Linked DNA regions of Homo sapiens: region 1 is linked to region 2. Evidence: fine-mapped expression QTL. Tissue or cell type: whole blood. Region 2 holds a variant in brackets; the other region holds the start of a gene. All regions are shown on one strand. Distances are from middle to middle.

What was found. PIP is the estimated chance that this variant, and not a neighbour inherited with it, causes the effect.
Region 1: SOAT2 starts here. The variant in region 2 is fine-mapped to the expression of SOAT2 in whole blood (TOPMed, PIP 0.95).

What each region holds. Positions count from the first base shown.
Region 1 is chr12:53,101,936-53,104,435 of GRCh38, forward strand. SOAT2 (sterol O-acyltransferase 2) reads left to right here and starts at 1,551. Exons shown (of 15, transcript NM_003578.4): 1 at 1,551-1,724; 2 at 2,216-2,271. The coding sequence starts at 1,643. It overlaps IGFBP6 (insulin like growth factor binding protein 6), which reads left to right. Exons shown (of 4, transcript NM_002178.3): 4 at 110-405. The coding sequence ends at 232. RefSeq lists an enhancer at 1,133-1,661.
Region 2 is chr12:53,443,100-53,445,823 of GRCh38, forward strand. It overlaps PRR13 (proline rich 13), which reads left to right. Exons shown (of 4, transcript NM_018457.4): 3 at 292-674. Among named protein-coding and RNA genes, the nearest start is that of PRR13, 2.7 kb to the left of the region's middle. The variant A/G (reference allele first, on the strand shown) is at 1,442.

The DNA of each region.
Region 1 (2,500 bases), 340 kb before region 2:
CCCGAGGAGACGCTCAGGTGTTTTTACATCCTCAGACTCAGATGTCCCCTCTCATTCTCCTGCTGGAAGCCTCTGGCCTCACTCCTGACCTGTGTGCCTCTCTCTCCAGTGCCGCTCCTCCCAGGGGCAGCGCCGAGGTCCCTGCTGGTGTGTGGATCGGATGGGCAAGTCCCTGCCAGGGTCTCCAGATGGCAATGGAAGCTCCTCCTGCCCCACTGGGAGTAGCGGCTAAAGCTGGGGGATAGAGGGGCTGCAGGGCCACTGGAAGGAACATGGAGCTGTCATCACTCAACAAAAAACCGAGGCCCTCAATCCACCTTCAGGCCCCGCCCCATGGGCCCCTCACCGCTGGTTGGAAAGAGTGTTGGTGTTGGCTGGGGTGTCAATAAAGCTGTGCTTGGGGTCGCTGGCTTGTGTCTCTGTGTCTGCCTCTCACAATTCTGGAATCCCTGGCCCTCTCTTTACCCCACTACAGCTCACTCACAGCATTTCTCCTTTCCTGTGGATACCTTTAGTCCTTCCTGTGACAGCCAGGCAGAAGCTTCAAGCCATCAAGCCTCACAGAGCTGCCCACCAGGAGTTGGGAGTGGGAAGGGGAGACACTGAGATCATGGCCTTAATCTGAAGTTGTGACCTTGTTTCTAACACTGATCTTTGGACACAAAGGGAGGGGAAGGATTAATAGTTAATCCCAGCAGGAACCCAGCAAAGAGGAACTCTCAAAGCACATACCCTTCTGTTACTTCCTACTAAAAAAAGAAGGAAATTATTACTAATATATGAGCTCATCCCATGGCCCTGAACCATGTGATTTTACCTGGACAACCTCATTTTGAGCTTACGATAACCTTGTGATATAGGGATTTTTACCCCTATTTTTCAGAGGAGGAAACTGGCTTAAAATTTGGGGTCACTTGCCTGAAATTATATAGCTGGTAAATGACAGAGGGAGGTTTGCATCCGGTTCTTCCATATGTGACAATACCTGGTATTCCCTAGGTGCTGAATACGTGTTTGTTTAGTCTCCTTTCTGCCTACATGCTCACCCAAGCAGGTGTCAGGAAGCGGCCCTGTCAGTTCAGGGGCCCTGACACTCAGCCTTTCCTGGAGGGGCCCCAGTTCCGTGAGTAGCACAGTGCCAACCCCATCAGAATATTACCACATGTGTCAATCACACACCTTGTGGTGAAAGCGAGCTGAACGCACTGATACATGAAGACATTTCTGACTCCTCCCTGACCTTCAGCCTGCTGGGAGAGAGACTGGAAGGCCAGCCATGCTAGGTGACAAGCTTCTGAGAGGCAAAGTTCCCCTCCCCAAGATGTACCCAGCCACTATTCCTGTGTGTGTGTGGCGGGGTGGATAGCACCCTTGGAGCTGGGCATCTGGATGGTGGTTGGGGTGTTAGGGGGATGTGGCGATCCCTGCGACAGACAGCAGAGTGAGGTCTGAATCTGAGAAGCTCTGCCTCCAGATCAGATAACCTATCGCACTCCCAGAGGCCCCCTCCTCCTGAAAGGACTTTAGTCTTTGGAGCTGTCACCTGAGCTGAGTGGGACAAGAGCTCTACAGGGCAGGCCACACTGCGAAGGAAGGAGGCAACACGGGCAAGGGCTGCCTGCTGCCCGCTGGAGACCGCACCATGGAGCCAGGCGGGGCCCGTCTGCGTCTGCAGAGGACAGAAGGGCTGGGAGGGGAGCGGGAGCGCCAACCCTGTGGAGATGGTGAGCCGCCCTCGGGGGTGCAGAAGGCACAGGCAAGTGGGGGGGAGGCGGGGAGAGATGCGCTATGGAGAGAAGGCTCCAACTGCCTGATGCCAATCCTTCCTGCTGTCCAGAGAGGCCAAGGAAGGTAGACCCTGGCCTCAGCCCAGAGCCACCCAGCTGGAAGATGGAACAGAAAAGAGCTATGTCAGAGCTGTGGCCTGGCCTTATCCTTCTGACTGTTTAGCCCCAGATAGTGAATGGAGTAGCTTCCCATTCCCTGAGTGCCCTGTTCCCAGTAATGTCACCAGGCCCCCTGCTTGCCTATGGCCTCCTCACCACTGGCAACAGCAACTTCCCCTTCTAGTAGCCCCAACCATGATACTAGATATTGGCTGGTTGGGGTGAGGGCAGCTGCTGAGCACACAAAGCATTTCCTGACCACAGGATGCCTCTGGGTCTGCAGAACCCCAATTCCTCCTGTTGACTGTGCCTTTGATCCCTCCTCACAGGAAACACTGAGACGCACAGAGCCCCGGACTTGGTACAATGGACCCGACACATGGAGGTGAGGGATGTCAGAGGTCAGAGGTCAAGTGGACAGATCCTTGGTAGCAGGAAGCAGGAGTGAGGCTTGGTGATAAAGATGACTTTTTTTTTTTTTTTTTTTTGAAACAAAGTCTCGCTCTGTTGCTCAGGCTGGAGTGCATTGGCACAATCTCGGCTCACTGCAACCTCTGCCTCCCAGGTTCAAGCGAGTAGCTGAACTACAGATGAGTGCCACCAGGTGTGGCTAA
Region 2 (2,724 bases):
GTCCACCTCGGCCTCCCAAAGTGCTGGGATTACAGGCGTGAGCCACCGCGCCTGGACTGACCAGTGCTTTTGTCTTCCTCAGAGTTCACTGTCTCCCTCCTCTCCCTAGCCCTTCCAGGGACATTCCCCCTTTTCTCCCCAACTCAAGTTTGTCTCCCCTACCCTCCATTCTTCTTTGTCATCTTTCCGTTTCCCTTTAAGTATTGAGTGAGAAAGAATCTCTTTCTTTTTGTTGTTTGTTGTTGGAGACTCTGGGGAATTCTAATGTTTATTCTCTGCTTCTTCCACCAGGGCAGCCAGGGCCAAATCCATATCCCCCCAATATTGGGTGCCCTGGAGGTTCCAATCCTGCCCACCCACCACCTATTAATCCACCCTTTCCCCCAGGCCCCTGTCCTCCTCCCCCAGGAGCTCCCCATGGCAATCCAGCTTTCCCCCCAGGTGGGCCCCCTCATCCTGTGCCACAGCCAGGGTATCCAGGATGCCAACCGTTGGGTCCCTACCCTCCTCCATACCCACCGCCTGCCCCTGGAATCCCTCCTGTGAATCCCTTGGCTCCTGGCATGGTTGGACCAGCAGTGATAGTAGACAAGAAGATGCAGAAGAAAATGAAGAAAGCTCATAAAAAGATGCACAAGCACCAAAAGCACCACAAGTACCACAAGCATGGCAAGGTCAGTACCCTCTGGAGACTGGCTAGGGAAGGAGTCCCCCCTCAGAGGGACTAGGTAGGCAGGGGTTGGGTGAGGGGGATTCACATTCTGTGGACGTGAGGGATGACAATTGTGTCGCTCTGGTAGATGATTCTTCCTTTTTATAAAAGATTGCTACTGGGAAGAATCTGATTATCTTGAAAATAAACATCAGGCTTCTCCTATCTGGGGGGAGTTAGGGTGAGCCTTAGAATGGATTTTAGAATCAAAAGCCAAATCTTTTCTGCCCTACTCTCCCAGAACTTTTGCTCCCCTCCCGCCAGGTGCATATTCTAGCAAGTTGGACACGCCCACTGACATTGTCAAAATACCAAAGTCATTCCTTTGACAAAGCAAGGTCTTATAATAATTAACAGAATTAATCTGTCCCTAGTTCCAGAAGTTCCTTCTCTCTTTCATCAGTGTTCTTAGGGCGTTGTGTTAATTACATGGGTCCTTTGCCCTATCATCCAGCAGAAAAAGTGAGGACAAGAGCAGTCAGTGACTAGGCTTCTAACAAAGCCTAGGACTAAGGAGGTTTTTTTTTTTTTTTTTTGAGACGGAGTCCCGCTCTTTAGCCCAGGCCAGATTGCAGTGGCACAATCTCGGCTCACTGCAAGCTCCGCCTCCCAGGTTCACGCCATTCTCCTGCCTCAGCCTCCCGAGTAGCTGGGACTACAGGCGCCCGCCACCGCGCCCGGCTAATTCTTTGTATTTTTAGTAGAGATGGGGTTTCACCGTGTTAGCCA[A/G]GATGGTCTCGATCTCCTGACCTTGTGATCCGCCCGCCTTGGCCTCCCAAAGTGCTGGGATTACAGGCGTGAGCCACTGCACCCAGCCCTAAGGAGGTTTTATACTCAGCTCCAAGGCTAAGTATCTTTGTTTTAGAGGAGTGTTAAAAATTGGTAAGGGTGGCCAGGTGCCATGGCTCATGCCTGTAATCCTAGCACTTGGGAATTATTAGCTGGGTGTGGTGGCGCATGCCTGTAATCCCAGCTACTCAGGAGGCTGAGGCAGGAGAATTGCTTGAACCCGGGAGGCAGAGATGGCAGTGAGCCCAGATCTCACCACTGCACTCCAGCCTCGGTGACAGATAAGACTCCATCTCAAACAAACAAACAAAAAATAGCAAGGATAAAAGCAACTCTGAGGACAACTCTGGAAGGATTAAACCAATCTGCATCTTGATGAGGCCTCCATTTACATTTAACTGCCCAGTATTTATTTGCCTTGTGGATTCTAATTCCTGATTCTGGGTCTTTGATAGAAATCTGAAGAGAAGGCTGTGCGCCGTGGTCCACACCTGTAATCCCAGCACTTTGGGATTCCGGGGCGGGCGGATCACGAGGTCAGGAGTTCAAGACCAGCCTAGCCAACATGGTGAAACCTGTCTACTAAAGATACAAAAAATTAGCTGGGCATGGTGGTGCGTGTCTGTAATCCCAGCTACTCTGGAGGCTAAGGCAGGAGAATCTCTTAAACCCAGGAAGTGGAGGTTGCAGTGAGCTAAGATCATGCCATTGCACTCCAGCCTGGGCAACTGGGTGAAACTCCGTCTAAAAAAAAAAAAAAAAAAGGTCTGAAGAGAACCGAAGAGAATTGAGATTTAGTGGGGAAAAGCGGGAGAAATTACCCTGGAGAGACTGAAAAATGTTTTTATTTAATAACTAGCATTGCTGGGAGTATATGCTTAAGGAACCTTGAATAGAACTCCCAGCCTTTTCTTACACCTTCCCCACTTTTTCCCATTGTGCTTGGGAAAAAGTAGAGATACATGCACATACAACTGCTGTTTCTACTGTCTTTTCTTAGATTTGTAGAATCCAATTTCTTAAAATCATAGGACTTTGCACGCAGCTAATGAATAAGCATTGAAAAGGTAACAGCTGTTTCCTAGCACTATACTATGCTTGTGCCTGTAATTTATTCCTTGCCTAGGCATCGATTCAGGTAAAGAAAGTTGGAAATTTGCTCCAAAGGCAATATGTTAAATTTTTTAAATTCCGTGTGATAATTTAGGATGGTTTAATCCATT